Linked DNA regions of Homo sapiens: region 2 is linked to region 1. The links come from fine-mapping of genetic effects on gene expression. A gene starts in region 1. The other region holds a variant in brackets. All regions are shown on one strand. Distances are between the middles of the regions. Region 1 holds the start of POLDIP2 (DNA polymerase delta interacting protein 2). Region 2 holds the start of TMEM97 (transmembrane protein 97).

Region 1 (9,256 bases):
CTGAGGAGCTAGTGTGATACAATGGGAAAACAATCGGACTGGCAGTTAAGAGCCCTGGTTTTCAGCCCTCACTCTGCTACTAGCAACCTTGAGTCCCTTGTCATCATCCCTGATCCTCAGTTTCCATATCTGTAAGGAAATAACTGCCATCTGTCATCTGTCAGGTATGACACCTATGAGGCATGACAGCTCTAACAGGAGGTTGAAAAGGGTTGTGGAAATAGAGCGTTGGAATTATTTCTTTTTTTTTTTTTTTTTTGGAGACGGAGTCTTGATCTGTTGCCGGGATGGAGTGCGGTGGCATGATCTCAGCTCACTACAACCTGTGCCTCCCGGGTTCAAGCAATTCTTCAGCCTCAGCCTCCCAAGTAGCTGAGACTACAGGTGCACGCCACCACACCCAGCTAATTTTTATATTTTTAGTAGAAACAGGGTTTCACCACATTGGCCACGATGGTCTTGATCTCTTGACCTAGTGATCTGCCCGTGTCAGCCTCCCAAAGTGCTGGAGTTATAGGCGTGAGCCACAAGCACCCGGGCCTTTTTTTTTTTTTTTCCTGAGATGGAGTCTCGCTCTGTTGCCCAGGCTGGAATGCAATGGTGCAATCTCGGCTCACTGCAACCTCCACCCTCCTGGGTTCAAGTGATTCTCCTGCCTCAGCCTCCCAGGTAGCTGGGATTACAGGCGCCCACCACCACGCCCAGCTAATTTTTGTATTTTTAGTAGAGACAGGGTTTCACCAGGTTGGCCAGGCCAGTCTTGAACTCCTGACCTCAGATGATCCACCTGCCTGGGCCTCCCAAAGTGCTGGGATTACAGGCGTGAGCCACCGTGCCCGGCCCTGGAATTATTTCTATGATATTCTTTGATGAAAAGGCCCTCCCATTCCACCTCCCCTTCTTGAGAGAGATTACCTTTTGTCTGGTCATACAGAAGAAATCTTTCAAAGAGTTCATGTTGGATGGGAACCTGATCAGTGGAGGTGTAGGGGAGGATGTCTTCATGGCTGACATAGTCCAAGCCTGGCACAGAGATGCAAAAGACAGTGGTGAAACTCACAGGAGAGGAGAGAGATGGGGTTGAGAAGAAACATTAACTGGCCTTGTTCCAGTATGGGATAACCCTGATATCATACCTCTCAGCATCATAATCCCTCCCAGTGGATGACAGGACATCAGAATCCTCTCCCTGAGACACACCAGACTCCTTCTTGACGGGCACCATTCAAATGCTAACTACTCACCTGGGATGGCATAGAGGGCCCGACTGTCATCATGGTTAGCCAAGAAGGTCACAGCTTCTGTCTGAGATCTCTGAGACTAAGGCAAGAAGTGAATCAGTGGTGAAACCATGTCTCTGCTAAAAAGTACAAAAATTAGGCTGGTGTGGTGGCAGATGCCTGTAATCCCAGCTACTCGGGTGGCTGAGGCAGGAGAATCACTTGAACCCGGGAGGCAGAGGTTGCAGTGAGCTGAGATCTCACCACTGCACTCCAGCCTGGCGACAGAGTGAGACTCCATATCAAAAAAAAAAAAAAAGACGTGAATCAGGGCTTTGTTGGCCACTGTGCAGTCCAAGGCCTTGGGGACCAAGACTGACCTGGGCTCTGTTTGACCCCCTTCCCTCCCTTTGTCCCCATTGGGATGCAGGACTTTCCATGGAGAGGACCCCCAAGCCCAGCCATCTTGCTTACTTACTATATGTGGGCAGTCACGAGCATCAATCAGCACCTGATAGTAAGTGTGAGTTTTGCCTTTCACCTCCTTGGAGCCATGGCCAGCAGGGTTCTCTGCTCTATGGGGTGGGAGAAGGAGGCCAAGATCACCCCAGGAGAAATGGAAGCTGTGGCTGACTCAGCTCCCTACTCCTCCTCACCTAAACAGGCTGGTCTCTGATCTAAAGGGGCTTTAGCACCAGCTGGACACCTGCTCTGCAGCACCTCAGCTCAGCTGCTCCTCAGTTGGGGCAAATAATAGAGCATGGAAGACCATGGTATGGAGCCATCATCTGACCGTGTGGATACCTCTTAAAAGAAGGGGGCCATGTTGAGAAAATCAAATTGCCACCTCAGTCCCCAGGGCCCAGAGTACTCTTGTCTTCTTATATCCCAGGGACTGTCTGTGATCACTTAATGGGGCTGAACCTTTTCTGTTTTAATGTATTCTAGGGATGATGTGAGATTGAGGGAAAGACTCCAGCTGAACATCAAGAAATCAAGAAGACTTGTCCCCCAAATGCCCTCTGGGATACTCATAATGAAAATTAGGAATGGCTTAGGAAAGCATTCTGAGGAGGCCTAAAGGGACTCTCTGACTTAGACTATCCCTGGCACTCAGCACTTTTGTCTCCATGGGTCTTAGTCCCAGAGAAGTACTCTGGGGATGTTTCCAAGGCCTAGGAGGACGCTGTCTTCACCCCTAGTACCCCAATTACATATGTCTGCCATCTCCTCCTGAGGATACTGTGAGGCACAACCACAGGGAAACTTACTTTTCTGGAGCTGCAGAAGCCACATCCCGGTCATACAGTCTGGCCTGCCAGGGAAACAGGACGACACCTCGGTAGCCAAAAATGCTATGAAGGAAAAGCTGGAAGGAAAGAGGGGCCTCAGTGAGTCTGCAGTCCAGCAAATCCATCCAGGTGGGCCCCAGACCACAAAGCAACACAGGTGGAGGCAACTCCAGCACAAGGTCTTGCTACCTCTTCCCTTGAAGTCTGTGATCAACCAGACCAATGCTGGAACACTCTTATTTCTTCTTTACCTGGCTGACTCTACTCATCCTTTAGGTAAAAGCTTAGGCCTCCAGGAAGCCTTCCCTGACCTCCCTTCCACTTAGCACAATGTACAGCTATTGGCCATTTGCAAATCGTTCTTTTCTAGACTAGAAACTCCACAATAGCAGGAATCATGTCTACTTTGCTTTCTGATTTAACCCTAATGCACAATGCCTAGTCCATTGTAGGCACACAGAAAAATAAAATGTTGAACAAACAAAAAGTCTTCCTTACCTACAATATCCTAGAAGGGCCTAAATCTATCCCAGTGGACCCAGAACAAAGCTGATATAGAAAAAGAACCACACATCCAGAGTTTACCACACTGAAGTCAATTTTATTACGGCAAAGCATCAAAGGTATACTTTTCTGAAAGCTCCCTCCACGGCTTCCCACCATCCACTATGTTAGAGAAATCTTCAGCAACTTGGCTAAACCTCACTATAGTCCACACCATCCCTGTCCACATTAACTTGGAAAGAGAACCCACTGACACATTAAGTGCATTCAAATCCAGGAGAACAGAAACCCTATCTATAAAAATTTGATTCTGGGCTGGGTGCGGTGGCTCACGCCAGTAATCCCAGGACTTTGGGAGGCCAAGGCAGGTGGATCACCTGAGGTCGGGAGCTCGAGACCAGCCTGACCAACATGGAGAAACCGCATCTCCACTAAAAGTACAAAATTAGCCAAGTGTGGTGGCGCATGCTTGTAATCCCAGCTACTAGGGAGGCTGAGGTAGGAGAACTGCTTAAACCCAGGAGGTGGAGCTTGCAGTGAGCCGAGACCATGCCATTGCACTCCAGCCTGGGCAACAAGACTGAAACTCCGTCTCACAAAAAATAAATAAATAAAATAAATAAATAAAATAAAAAATGAATACAAATTTGATTCTGGAATGGCACCAAACATCAAGGTGGAATGAATGGAACACCATACCATGCAGGCCTGTGACCTAATCTGACTTTTTTCAGAAGCAGAGCACTCTATGAAAATGAAAGATGACCCAGCCCAATACTCACCTGCCCGGTCTCATATTTTCCATTCTGTTTTGGCACCTCAAACACACCAACTGTCTCCAACACTTTGCCCTCTGGTCGGTTTCTGAGTAGGAAGGAAAAGAACAAGCAACAGAAAAGCTGAGAAGGTAATGGTAGTTATCCATAAGAAAAAGCTCCTAGGATACTGAGGGGCCAGGGCGATGACAGCAGAGAAGGGTTTGGGGTAGTGGGACCAGCTGGAGCAGGAAAGGCTTTCCTCCTCCTTGGTGAAAACCTCCACAGTCTCCCAGTGTTAGATGTGACCGCTCCCATACTACTGTCTTCTCTCTTCACTGGGCATTCTTCATATCATGCCCTCACACTCTGCTCAAATGTACCCCTGCCCTTGTTTCTTCCCTAACCCACCCTCCTGACCTCCCACAGCACTTTAACTGTCTTGCTCACTTTTTCAATTTTTTTAGAAGGGGAGTATCTTTTTTTCTTCTTTTCTTACATTTTCTATATCACAAGTCATCAAACAATATCCTGCTCCCTTTACATTTCAGTTGTGTCCATGTCTTATCTTTATTAAATACTGTAAATTCCCTGGGAGCAATGCCTGAGTCTGATTAGCTGGTACTGCCCCCTCAGAGCCTAGTGTACAAGAGGTGCTCAAAAAATATTTGTCCTGTATTATAATTCCATGTCCATCTCCCCCTCTAACCTGTAGCCCTTACATTGCCCTTGAAAAGCTTAAACATCTCTAGATTTCCTACGGCACATCGCTCTCTCAATACCGTTTTTGTTCATATTCTCACAGGGGTCTTAAATTGCAAATAGCTATCATCTCTCCCCAATGTTCAGTGTCTAATATCAGCCACTAAAATGTCAGTCACCACTCTGAACAGGGCTGCTCTTTCTAGGGGCCCTTCAAATAAAGGCTGTTTTTACTGTTTTGAAGATGTGAACTTTATGCTTCCTCCCACTGATCCACCAGCCCATTTGATCCGCCTGTCCCATCCGTGGAAACAGTTTCCACACCATCCCCATGGCCTCAAACCCCCTTCCCCAAGTCACAGATAGAAAATCGATCTCCCCAAAGTCACTTGGAAACCTGGGGCCTACGAGGGTCCACACCCAAGAGTCTCGTTTCCCACCTCTAGCATCTTTCTGAGGCAGACCTTCACCAAATCCAAAGGCTGAGGGTTCAAGCCAATGCCCTAGGGCTGAATTAAAAAGCTTCCCTCTGACATCGGTGCTGGGGACCCCAGCCGGGGAAGTAGGATTCACTTGGGGAGGGTAACCTGTTCCCCCCCAGGGCCAGCCCTGTACAACCAGGGCTCTGGGCCGCGCTGGCTTCCCTGCTCCTGGCACATGTCCCAGACAGCGCAGGTCGGCTCCCTGCTCGGGACCCTCTCCCGGGTCAAACTCCAGTCACCCTCAGCAGGCCCGGGCCCCTGGCCTCCGCACTGGCTAGGAACACGCTCTCTGGGCTCCAGGCCCAGTTCCTCGCGCCCCCTGGCTCCGTCCCTCACCGGGACGAGAGGTGCCTCCGCGTCGTCGTGGTCGACGCTGGCGAGAAGGCTCCAGCTCCGGCCGCCGCACAGAGCGGCCTTGGCCACCGGGCCCCAGTCAGCGACCGGGACCACCAGCGGCTGCCCACGGCCAGGGCCCGCCGGGCTGTACAGGCTGCCATGTCCCGCCCGAGCGCCCGCCCGGCTGCTGACACAGAGCCCGACCCGCGGCCGGGCGGCGTTCCGCCCCAGTCCCACACTGCCCCGCGCGGCGTCCCGGCCCTCTTGGCCCGCCTGGTCCCACCCCGGAGCTCAGAGCAACTTCCGGTGCGCTTAGCGTTACTTCCGGCGCGCGGCGGGCGGAAGTCCGGGTTGGGGTCACCTGACCGGAGAGCCGGCTAGATATGGCGTCCTCTTTGCTTGCGGGCGAGCGATTGGTGCGTGCTTTGGGCCCCGGCGGGGAGCTGGAGCCAGAGCGGCTACCCCGAAAGCTGCGGGCCGAGCTTGAGGCCGCGCTGGGGAAGAAGCACAAGGGCGGTGATAGCTCCAGTGGCCCCCAACGCTTGGTTTCTTTCCGTCTCATCCGGGATCTGCACCAGCATCTGAGAGAAAGGGGTGAGCCCCAGTCTCCAGTCCGGGGTCCCCTCCTTGTGTCCAGATCGATTCCCTCCTGAGGTCTTTTCCCATCATTCCCCTTCTTCTACGGAGCACTCATCTAGACAAGTCAAGAGTCACTCCATAAATCCCAGGGCCACCCACTTTCTTAACTCCCATGGGAATTTCTCGTGGATGACAAATTTGCTTGTGCAGTTTCTGCTCTTTTGAGAGCCCCCTCTTCACTTCCAGGCACACCTAGGCCCAATTCACCCTTGAGAAAGTCTAGGTTTTTACCAAATACAAATATCACAGGTTTTGTCTCTTCTTTTTCTCCACTTTAGGAATCAGCTTAGCATAGTGAGCTTGTAGGAATCCGGATTTCTTTCCACCTCAAAAGCAAGAGTGGTGAAATCTGATACTTTGTTTTGTTTGTTTGTTTTTTTAATATAGGATGGCAAAAGCTGTGTTGAAAGATCTGGCCTGAGAGTAGCATGTGAGTTCCAGTCCTAGCTCTGTCACTAATCCTTTGAAGGAGTCATTTCTCCTCGCTGGGCCTCAGTTCCCTTATGTGTAAAGGGAAGGAACAGGACAAACTAGCACATAAGGTATTTTGCCAGAAGTAACATAGACCAGCCAGAAGTGCAAAGGGTAGACTGCTCAATTATTAGAACTAGAAAGGACCTTAGAAAGAGATTGCCTAGTATTAGTGTCCTCTGAGCATTTAGCATCACTATGACCTAAACTTATTTAGGGAAGAGCTGTTGTGGCCACAGAACTGATCTAACCCAAAGGCACAAGTAAATGGCTTACTTGTTAGTTATAACACTGGCAGGATAATTGAGAGCTGACAGCTAAAGTCACCTGCGCAGCACTGGGAGATACCTACATGGAATTATCCAAAATTCTTTTCAATTGAAAATGATCCTGGAAATGGATTAATGTAGAGATGGCCCTGTTTTATTTTGGTAGAAAGAAGGGCTACACCCCTCTTGATCTTAACCCTTCAACCTCAGCTCGTGGATCATTGTGTTTGTGAAACCTTTTCTTCTCAGATTCCAAACTATACCTCCATGAGCTCCTAGAAGGCAGTGAAATCTATCTCCCAGAGGTTGTGAAGCCTCCACGGGTATGTAAGGGATATGTTTGTGAGAGTGGTTATTGACTGAGTTGGGCTTATCCATGATACACTGAACTTATAAATCAACTTTTAGGCTTGAAAAATTGTTTTTGAAATCTTTGGGATCTGGGGGAGCCAGATATTGTCCTCCCCATCAGCTGTTTGGAAAATTGAGATCAAAAAAAAAAAAAACAGTTTCAAAGCACTGGAGTTACGACTAGTATGTGGGTCTCCTGATACCTTTAGCAGTGCTTTACCCCTGGAACCAATGATTGTGATGTGCTTTCTAACAAGCTGGGAATATCATTCTTCTCATTTGATTTTTCTGCTTCAGAACCCAGAACTAGTTGCCCGGCTGGAGAAGATTAAGATACAGCTGGCCAATGAGGAATATAAACGGATCACCCGCAACGTCACTTGTCAGGTAAGGACATGCTCTTCAGTACGTGGTCTAGGTAGCCCCTCAGAGTAGGGCCCTGCAGTGGAAGAAGATACAGAGTTTAGAAAAAACATGGAAACTTGGTTTCTATACTGTTCAGGGACCATAGGAAGTCTGCATACAAACAACACAGTTCCCATCTCATTCACTGAGACTCTGGGCTGAGATGGTGACCAAGTTTTAAACGTCATAGAAGTGGGAGTTAGCCGGGCACGGCGCTCATGCCTGTAATCCTAGCACTTTGGGAGGCTGAGGTAGGTGGATCACTTGAGGTCGGGAGTTCGTGACCAGCCTGGCCAACATGGTGAAACCCCGTCTTTACAAAAAATACAAAACTTAGCCTGGCGTGGTGGCGGGCACCTGTAATCCCAGCTACTCGAGAGGCTGAGGCAGGAGAATCACTTGAACCCAGGAGGCGGAGGCAGAGGCTGCTGTGAGCCAACACTGCACCATTGCACTCCAGCCTGAGCAACAAGAGCAAGACTCCATCTCAAAATAAATAAATAAATAAATAAATAAGTGGGAATGAATCTTGGAGGCTTTTTTTCTTCTTCTTTTTTTTTTTTGAGATGGAGTCTCACTCTGTCACCCAGGCTGGAGGGCAGTGGCAGGATCTCTGCTCACTGCGGCCTCCGCCTTCCAGGTTTAAGTGATTCTTATGCCTCAGCCTCCCAAGTAGCTGGGATTACAGGCATGCACCACCACGCCAGGCTAATTTTTTGTATTTTTAGTAGAGACCACGTTGGCCAGGCTGGTCTTGAACTCCCAGCCTCAAGGTGATCCTCCTGCCTCGGCCTCCCAAAGTGCTGGGATTACAAGGTGAGCCACTGTGCCCAGCCATTCGAGCATTTCTTCTGACAGGGCTCCCTACTACTCTATGGCATGCTCCTACCCTGGAACAGGAGAGTAGATGGGTACTGGCAGCCTATGTCCTCTCTCCGAAATGCCTGCTCTGTAGTCCAGAAAAGAGTCAAAATGGTTCCAGACAAAAGAATCCATGGGGAGGGCAGAGTTAATATGTTGGGGAATAGAGAGGGCTGAGCCAGACTGTCAATGGATGCTCTCTGAGCTGCTTCTATTCTGAATCATCTTCTTTTTCTTTTTCCCAGGATACAAGACATGGTGGGACTCTCAGCGACCTGGGAAAGCAAGGTGAGGTACTAGGAGATCAGGCTTCTAAAACCTTTTCCTGAGATGGGTCATGACACTCAGGCTTGTTGTTTGACTGAAACCCAGTTGGTGGGGGAGCCATGAGATAAGAGCACCTCCTAGAGAATGTTGAACTAAAGGTGCCCTCTCTGGCTCCTCCCCAAAGTGAGATCATTGAAGGCTCTGGTCATCACCATCTTCAATTTCATTGTCACGGTGGTTGCTGCCTTCGTCTGCACTTACCTTGGAAGCCAATATATCTTCACAGAAATGGCCTCGGTGAGTAGGCACTGGGCAGGGCAGGGTGCCCCTGGTGGGGGTGTTAGTGGGTAAGGGAGGACGTATGTGAAAGTGCCTTGCACAGGTTAGGTATTGAACAGATATTTATGCCATTAATAAGGGGAGCATTAGAGCTTTCCAGCAGTCACGGGAGGTTAGGTAATAACCCCAGGAGAAGCCACATTCTCTTTTCTTCCCCTCCCCCAACTTAGAGGGTGGTTGGGGGGCTCTCCATCCTCATTAAAGTTGCTGGGGTACAGAGCTGGTTGTTGGCCTGCATCCCTTAAGCCTGGTTCTCCCCATCTCCAGCGGGTGCTAGCTGCATTGATCGTCGCCTCTGTGGTGGGTCTGGCCGAGCTGTATGTCATGGTGCGGGCAATGGAAGGCGAGCTGGGAGAACTGTAA
Region 2 (9,256 bases), 39 kb before region 1:
TCAAAAAATCCCCAGTGTCACCTGTTCATCCCTTTACTTTCTTCCCTTCAAATTCCTGGCAAGTACTGATCTTTTTACTGTTTCCGTAGTTTTGCCTTTTCTAGGATGCCATATATTTCCAATCGTTATGTAGCCTTTTCAGATTGGCTTCTTTCACATACTGCTGAATATGTATCCAAGATTCCTCCATGTCTCTCCTGGCTTGATAGCTCATTTCTTTTTAGCCATAAATAATACTCCACTGTCTGGCATATCACAGTTTGCTTATCTATTCACCTACCAAAGGACACCTGAATTGCTGCCAAGTTTTGGCAATTATGAATAAAGAATGCTATAAATATTGGTGTTTTGGTTTTTGGGTAGACATAAATTTTCAGCTCCTTTAGTTAAATACTAAGGAGTGTGATTGCTGGATTGAACGGTAAAAATAGGTTTAACTTCGTAAGAAACTGCCAAAGTGTCTTGTCTTCCCTTTGACAGTGTCTTTTGCAGAGTAGAAGTTTTAAATTTTAATAAAGTCTAACTTACCAATTCCTTCTTTCATGGGTGTGCCTTTGGTTTTCCAATTAAAAAGTCATCACTAACCCCAGTGACACCTAGTATTTTGTTTGCTTTTACTTGGTGTTCGTGTCATTGTGATGAGACTACATTTATTTTAGCAGTAGGAGGAAAAAGTTTTGTGCTTCACTACCAGGGATTACTATGATTGTTGTGATACTGTGATTGTTTACTTTTGTGGGAGTTGATGGTGTTTATGTTTTTGCATTAACGTTAAAGAAATCAATTAGCCTTTTTAATAGGGTAACTTTAATTCAGCTTAAATCTGCAAATTTGTGGGATTTTAGACCAAGAAATGGCCTGAAAGAGTGTCTAGTTCAAGTTCATTTTACAAATGAAGGTACAAAGAATGAGGAATATGACATGATTTGCATGAGGTCATACAGTGAATTATTAATGAAGACAGGACTTAGAATTGCTGATAACCATTTTAAAGAACTGAAAGATGTATTGATAATTTTTCTTGTATAATAAATAATTTTGATGATGTGTTTATTTCTTATTCTTTTTGACTTGGTGTTGTGGCTCCTAATTTTTAAAAGGGTAAGTTTTAAAACAGTGAAAAATATAAACAGTTTTTATACTTTTCAAGGAATCTACGATCTAGTGGGAAATATGTCCAGAGACATGGGCTCCAATCAGTGTTGCTCAGTGGAAAGGGACAAACTTTCGGAAACAGGTTCAGAGGATGTAACAGTGCCACCAAATAGAGGCAATTGGGGGCGGGGGTAGGGTGGCCTTCAGCCAAATAGTAAAATACATAGAGATGGGGGAGGTAAGCAGGGGTGGGGTGAGAAGGGTGGGTGCATTTTAAGTAGACAGAAAAGTGAAGCAAAAGTTGAGAGGTGAAGAAAGAGCTTTGTACAGTTGCTGCCAAAGAGGCAAGTGGCCAATTTGGCATGGCCTGCTCCAAGTACCTTTCAGCTGGGGTTACAATGCTAGAATTCGCTTTCTGCCATCATTGGGTCCACTGTTAGGCTAATGGTGTTTGTCTTGTCACAATATAAATACTTTTTTAAAGGCACTAAACATTGTTCTCATAAGGACAGGGTCATTCTTTCCACACTGTTGTCTTCCTCAGTTGACCTCTCTTAGAGCCATTTGCATTCTAAGACTTATCTGACCTCATCAAATTAAGAGCTATGGTCCCCTACTAAAGAAATTTCAAACAGCTGGACAGAATGTTTTTGGACAGAGGAACCATCCACTGAAAGTGCTTGGCCTTGAAAATCTTTATAGGTAACAAATTTGGCTAGGTGACATTTGGGGTTTTTTGTTTTGAGGCAGGGTCTCACTCTGTTACCCAGGCAGGAGTGTAGTAGTGTGATCACTCCTGGGTTCAAACCATCCTCCCACCTCAGCCTCTTGAGTAGCTGGGACTATAGGTGCGTACCACCACATCGGCTAATTTTTGTTATAGAAATGGGGGTCTCACTATGTTGCCAGGGCTGGATGAGATGTTTTCTGAGAAACTGTCACATTGACACCTGTACTTACCACATTTCCTGGACAAATCCTAGCCCACACTCCTCCGGCCCCATTGCCCTCCAGCAAGCAGTTATAATTAAGTTCTACAGGGAACTTAATTATAACTTCCTAAGGGAAGGGGAAGCTGGGTGGAGCGCAGAGCACACACCTAACCCACCCCAAGGTAAATTAAAAGGATATGGTACCACCATATCCTTAAAGCCATAATGGATGGAGGGTGGGAGCAGTGCTGCCAGGCCTCTCCAGCTGTGTAGTGTGCCAACCTAGCCAGACCTCTCCTGGGCCCTGGGTTTGGTCTGAAGACCCTGTGCGGGAAGGCACTGCTCTGCCCTAGGGATAGAAGACTTGGCCTGGGGCTGGGCGTTAGGATACCAGGGTTCCAGTCCCTGCCTTGTCACTCACTTTGTGACCTCGGACAAACACCTCTCTGAGTCTCAGTTTCCTCATGAGGTGTTAGGCCCTAGATATCTACAAAGGCCCTCCCAGCTCTTCATGTTCCATTTTTTTTTTTTTTTTTTTGAGACGGAGTCTCACTCTGTCACTCAGGCTAGAGTGCAGTGGTGCGATCCTGGCTCATTGCAACCTCCACCTCCCAGGTTCAAGTGATTCTCCTGCCTCAGCTTCCCATGTAGCTAGGACTACAGGTGCACGCCACTATGCCTGGCTAATTTTTGTATTTTTAGTAGAGATGGATTTTCACCATGTTGGCCAGGCCAGTCTTGAACTCCTGACCTCAGGTGATCCACCCACCTCAGCCTCCTAAAGTGCTGGGATTACAGTCCTGAGTCACCATGCCCAGCCTTTTTTTTTTTTCTGAGACAGAGTTTTGTTCTGTCGCCCAGGCTGGAGTGCAATGGTGCTATCATGACTCTGCAACCTCTGCCTCCTAGGTTCAAGTGATTCTCCTGCCTCAGTCTCCTGAGTAGCGGGGACTGTAGGTGTGCACCACCATGCCTGGCTAACTTTTGTACTTTTAGTAGAGTTTGGGTTTCACCATGTTGGTGAGGCTGGTCTGGAACTCCTGACCTCAGGTAATCCACCTGCCTTGGCCTCTGCTGGGATTACACGTGTGAACCATTGCGCCCAGCCTTCATGTTCTCATTCAAGTGAATGGTTTGGAGAAGTGAGAGAGGAGCTGTATACAAAAGTCCCCCTTATCCGTGGGGGAACATGTTCCAAGACCCCCAGTGGAGGCCTGAAACCATAGGTAGTACTGAACCATATTGTTTTTTCCTATACATACAAACCTATGATAAAGTTTAATTTATAAATCAAGCACAGTAAGACATTAACAATAAAATAGAACAAGTATAACAATATACTGTAATAAATAGTATGTGAATGTGCTCTCTCTCAAAATATCTTACTGTTCTCTAGATCTTAGCAACCTCAGCATTATTTCCTAAATCAAAAATCTTCACCTTTTCACATAAAGGAACTTTATGGTTTCTCATTGGCATATCCGAATTGTCACATCGCTACCATTGCACTTTAGGGCCTTTGAGAGGGGTCTCACTGTTGTGGAGGCTGGAGTGCAGTGAGGTGATCACAGCTCACTGCTGCCTCAAACTCCTGGGCTCAAGAGATCCTCCCACCTCAGCCTCCTAAGTAGCTGGGACTACAGGCAAGCCACCATGCCCAGCTAATTTTTTTTTAAGAGATGGGGTCTTGCTATGTTGCCCAGGCTGGTCTTAAACTCCTGGCCTCAAGGGGTCCTCCTGCCTCGGCCTCCCAAAGTGATTACAGGTATGAGCCACCACACCTGGCCCACTATTAAATAACATAAGGCTTACTTGAACACAAGCACCGTGATAACTCAATGGTCAATTTGATAACCAAGATGGCTACTAAGTGACTAACAGGAGTAGTTAGTCTGGGAACAGAGTGGAGTCTGAGAAAGAGCAAACTGCCTTTAAAGATTTATGGTGTGAACAAAATGGGCTCTCTCCTCAGGTGACCTAAGGTTTCCCAGGCATTGACTTTTTTTTTTTTTCCTGGAAAAAAAGCAGCAGCTAATTCTGAGTCCTCCCTCCTGAGCCCCTGGTAGAGTGTTCTCTCCATGGAGCCCGGCTCCCCCCTCGGAGCAGGACAAACAGCCCTGAACACCCCTGCCTCCCTGTGGCTGCCGGCTCTGTGGTCCTGGGCAAGGCTGACCTGAGACTTGGGGGACGCCAGAACTGTGTGCCCTCACGATGCTCAGCCACCCATGCTGTTCATCCCCTGCTCCCCACCCAAAGACCTCCACATTTCTCCTACTGTCTCCTTCCAACCTGCTCCTCCTCCTCTCCAGCCAAACCCCTCCACTGTTACCTCCCCCAGTAACTGGCACTTGGCTGAGGACTCAGCTTCCCCACAGCCCTCTCCAGCGCAGGCTATTCACCTTCTCGCACCCTTCAAGGTCAGGATAAGCGGCCTCCTCCCTCCGCAAGGCCATGTCCACACAGTTTCCCCTCCACTCTCATCCCATGCTCACCTTCCTTCTGGTTACTCCCCCGTGTGCAGTGGCATTTTCGCCACCACCACCCTGGGTGGCCTTCCCTTGACCTCATCTCCAAAGACCTTCCCCTCCACTCCATTTCAGCCGCACACTCCCACGGGCAGAACCTCTTCCTGACCCCAGGAATTCAGGTATTGCACGCCCTCCTCATAAGCTCCCACCCTTCCGGCCCAGTGACTCCCATCACGCTGGCACGTGTTCCTCAGCAGGCCTCCACTGTCTCCCTGTCTTACAGCCCCCTTTGGCCTCACCTCTCCCTCTCCCCCTACCTAGCTTGAACTGCAACCTTCTGCACCTCAATCACTCTTCTTCAGCTCTTCAAAGCCACCTTTCGCTTTTCTGAACCCAAACTCTGTAGGGGTCCAACAGCCTTCTTCTGGGTAGACCCCGCACTAGAGAAATGCAAAGCACACAGCCTAAGAGATTGGGGCCTCCGGGTCAGCGGCCCCCCACCTCAGCTGGGCCTTCAACACTGCCATAATCCCTCTGTCCTAGCCCA[C/T]AGCGCCCCAAGGGAAGGGGAAGCTGGGCGGAGCGCAGTGCACCCACCTAACCCACCCCAATCCTTCCATTCCCTCCGCCTCCTCCAGGGCTTTGAGCCGCATTTCCTGCTCTTCTCGAGTAGGGGTAACCTCTCCCACTGTCAAAACTAAACTAGCTCAAGTCTTTCTCACCTGCAAAATAAACTCTCGAGTGCATCTCTCTCCAGCTACTGCCCCATGTCTTCTCCCCTTCGTGACCAGCTGTCTACACTTCCTGCCTCCATTTCCCCACTTTCTTACTCCCTGGCTCCTGCCCCCACGACACAACTGTTCCCCACAGGGCCACAGGCGGGCATCACTCAGTGTTGACAGGCTGCCCCTCCCTGTGACATAGCCCCCTGCTAGTACGCTCCTATCTCAGTCCCCTCCTCCCATGACCTGAGGCTGGAGCTCCCCCAGGATCTCTCCCAGGCCCTCTGCTCGCCATCAAAGGCGGATGCCTCACAAGCTTACGACTCCAGACAGGCTCACCCAACTGCCTCCTCCACCCAACGCTGCAGCCCACTCAAGGTCCACGTAGTCCAAGCTGCATTCCTTCCTCGCACTCCCTTGCCCTGTGTCCCCTCTTAGCAAATGGCAGCCTCGGCGATCCTGCCCCGAGACAGGCCTGCGCCCAGCGTGGAGATGAACATCAGTATTTGCTGAACGTGTAAACGAATCCTTGACCTTCCCTCATGCTCCACAGCCGGTGAGGATTCCTGTCCATTTTACTGCCTCCTACGTCCCTCGAGTCCTCCCCTCTGCTTCTTTGTTCACCGCGGCCAGCTGCCTCCCCAGACCCGCAACCCCGGCTGGGCCGGGAACCTGCACCGCGGCGCTCGTGCCCCGCTCTGCGACCCCTGCTCCGTGACGGCCGCACTGCACCGGGGTACCGCGGCCCAGCACAGGCGCTGGTCACTAGTACACGAACTAGCTAGGACTACAGGTGCACACCACCACACCTGGCTAATTTTTTATTTTTTGTAGAGATAATGTCTTACTAAGTTACCCAGGCTGGTCTTCTGGGCTCAAGCCATCCTCCTGCCTCGGGCTCCCAAAGTGCAGACATTACAGGCATGACCCACCGTGCACAGCGTCAGCTTTATTTTTTTAATGCTGACTTACTGCAGAAGGCCCAAGGGCCAGTGCAGTTTTCATACTGCTGTTGTAGTGGCGAACGGAGCCACGAGGGAAGGGAGCGCCGCCGGCAGCTGCCGGGACACCAGGATACCACGCGGCCAGCACCGAAACGCTAGGCTCGCGCTCACAACCGCAATCTACACTGAGTAGCCGCGCGCCGAACGGCGTGACTAAGCCCCGCCCACACGGCGCTCCTGGCGGCCAATGGAAATGGCTTACGAGACGCCTTCTCCACGCGCTATACTTATACGGACCAATGGGTGCGCCCTGTGGGGAGTGCCGCCCCCTGTCCACGAGCCTCCTCTTCTCGCCAGCCAATGGAAGCGGTCTGCCTAGCCCTCGCGGGGGCAAGGCGGCGACCGAGGCGCGTGGGTCTGGGAAGGCGCGCGGATTTGGCCCCTCTTCTCACATCAGCGGGTCCAGGCCCAACCGACAGACTATGGGGGCTCCGGCAACCAGGCGCTGCGTGGAGTGGCTGCTGGGCCTCTACTTCCTCAGCCACATCCCCATCACCCTGTTCATGGACCTGCAGGCGGTGCTGCCGCGCGAGCTCTACCCAGTCGAGGTGAGGGGCGCCCCTCTTATCCCGGCCCGCTGAGGCTCTCCCGGCGCTGCGTCCACAGGGCCTTCACCTCCTCCGCGCTCGCGCACTCTGGGTTCCAGTTGCCTCTCTCGGGTCCTGCCCATGCCTCCCCCGCTCCTAACCCAACTTTAGTTCGGTGTTTTCCTCGGGCTTTGTCTCTATCCCAGCCCCTTCTCCCAAGCGGCGGGGGCGAACGCTTTGTTTCCTTTAAAGTCACTTCTTCCCTGGGTTTAAGGTTTCCCGCGATTCCACCTCTGGCCGGTTGTCAGTGTCTGAGGGAAGTAGTCTGGATGAAGTGGTGTCCAAAGTCACATGTTAGGTTTGCTTTAAGCTTCTGGTTTTTTGTTTGTTTGTTTGGAAGGGCTTTAAAATACCAGTCTGATCCCAAAGAAAAAATCCGAGTAGAAATAGACCTGTCTGAAGGTTTAGCACCTTGGTTGGTGCAGCTGGGGCGTTCACAGATCGTCACTGCTTCGAGATCAGGTTCCAGCAACTTCCAGAGCTCAGGAGTAAATTGCCATCTTTTCAGATTGGCTCTTCAATATTGGGTTCGAGTAACAATGATCTCCTGAGTAAAAATAAAGGTGAAAATCCCGATTTCCTGGTTGTTGGAGAGCATTCTTTCAACCCCAAACTCTGCTTTAATGCTTTGTTTTTTTCTTCAAAGCTATAGTTTTAGTTTCCCGGTTCGTTGAGGTTTTTTTCTCGTATCTGGACCCTGTGACCTTCTTCCATGGAATTCCTGTCCTCAGTTTTGTTTCTCCATCTTATCTATAACTGTAGGCAGGACTGACTTGTCTACCCGAAGATTTTATTTTGCGTCTGTTTTTCCTTAAATGCTTTTTATCTGCCGAGGAGGGGTTCTTTACCTGAGGGTCATGAACTCCCAAAAATGGGTGCAAGTGTGTGTGCCTTTTGTTTCCTGCAAGGAGAATATAGCTTCCATCGACTTTTCAAGGGGCCTAACTCTCCCAAAAAGGCCACGGCTCAAGAATGTTCTACCACTCCCATAAGTCACTCTTTTTTGTTTGCTTCTAGAACCAAACACAACTGGAAGACCTCTGACCTCCTTTTGCATGGGAAAAGCGTAGGTAGCGTGTAGCAAGTTGCAGTCTGGGGACTTGGTTCTTCCAAGAACTGGAGGTGACTTGGGCAGGTCAGGGCTCTATATCCTCCTCAACTGTTGAGAGAGTTGAGTTAAATTATAAGCTCAAACATATACAGGGTGGGTTAGTTTTCATATTGCTGTTGTAGTTACCACAAATGTAGTGATTTAACAGATTTATTTGTTTACAGTTCTGGAGGCCAGAAGTTCACAATGAAATCTTACAGTGCTCAAATCAAGGCAGGGCTCACTCCTTCTGAGGGCTCCAGGGGAGAATCTGGTTCTTGCCTCTTCCATTTTCTGGTGGCTGCCAATGTTCCTTGGCTTGTGTTCACGTCACTTCAATCTCTGCTTCGGGTCATCACATTGCCTCCCTTTCTGTAGTCAGAGTTCCCTCTGCTTCGCTTTTATAAAGACACTTGTCATACATTCAGGGCCCACCAGATAACCCAGAAAATCTCCCATTTCAAAATCCTTAATTACATCTGCAAAGTCCCTTTTGCCAAATAAAGTAATAGTCACAGGTTCCAGGGATTAGGATGTGGTTATCTTTGGGGGCCATTATTCAGCCTACTACAGGGCCAGAGAGTACAGACTCTTCCCAAAGACCGAAGAGGTCATCGCAGCTCTGCAGTAACCATTAATTGCCCTGAAGAAAGGAAAATCTACTACAGTGTTGGCCTATCTGTGGTTTTTGAAACCTGTGTGGCCAGCAATACTCAGACAGGCTGCCTGTTTACAATCTCTGGTGTTATAGGACCTTTTAATACTTGGTAATTAGCCTGCTACTCCATGTAGCCATTCCAGACTTCACAGCTGTTGTCTTCTTTATCCTTCCTGGATGTGCCATTCTCACAAGCCCGTCTTGCTCACCCCTAACAAAATACACTTAAAAGGTGCTCAGCATCATATCATAAAGATCCCATTTAAATGTTTACATTTGATAAAATTTTCTCAGTCTTTTTTTTAGAAACAGGGTCCTTTGTCACCCAGGCTTGGCGTGCTGTGATGCAGTCATGGCTTACCACAGCCTTGAACCTGAGCACAAGAGATCCTCCCACCTGTCTCCTGAGTAGCTAGGACTATAGGTGCACACCACCACACCTGGCTAATTTTTTATTTTTTGTAGAGATGATGTCTTACTGTGTTACCCAGGCTGGTCTTCTGGGCTCAAGCCATCCTCCTGCCTCGGGCTCCCAAAGTGCTGAGATTACAGGTGTGACCCACCGTGCCCAGCGTCAGCTTTATTTTTTTAATGCTGACTTACTGCAGAAGGCCCAAGGGCCAGTGCAGGCAGCATCTGGCCAGAACCTGTGTGTGTGTGTGTGTGTGTGTGTGTGTGTGTGTGTGTGTGTTTGTGTGAGATT

What was found. PIP is the estimated chance that this variant, and not a neighbour inherited with it, causes the effect.
Region 2: its variant is the best candidate, but not a certain one, in a credible set for the expression of POLDIP2 in blood mononuclear cells (TOPMed, PIP 0.74).

The regions. Positions count from the first base shown.
Region 1 is chr17:28,351,997-28,361,252 of GRCh38, forward strand. It overlaps POLDIP2 (DNA polymerase delta interacting protein 2), which reads right to left and starts at 5,531. Exons shown (of 11, transcript NM_015584.5): 1 at 5,292-5,531; 2 at 3,799-3,880; 3 at 2,492-2,589; 4 at 1,699-1,795; 5 at 1,245-1,320; 6 at 916-1,023. The coding sequence starts at 5,452. VMA12 (vacuolar ATPase assembly factor VMA12) reads left to right here and starts at 5,651. Exons shown (of 6, transcript NM_152464.3): 1 at 5,651-5,885; 2 at 6,920-6,993; 3 at 7,319-7,408; 4 at 8,533-8,575; 5 at 8,739-8,851; 6 at 9,161-9,256. The coding sequence starts at 5,675. The coding sequence ends at 9,256. MIR4723 (microRNA 4723) reads left to right here and starts at 8,658; the gene lies at 8,658-8,738. RefSeq lists enhancers at 4,931-5,696, 5,809-5,908 and a silencer at 5,229-5,618.
Region 2 is chr17:28,312,600-28,321,855 of GRCh38, forward strand. TMEM97 (transmembrane protein 97) reads left to right here and starts at 6,601. Exons shown (of 3, transcript NM_014573.3): 1 at 6,601-6,766. The coding sequence starts at 6,641. RefSeq lists enhancers at 4,880-5,705, 5,925-6,184, 6,665-6,724. The variant C/T (reference allele first, on the strand shown) is at 5,043.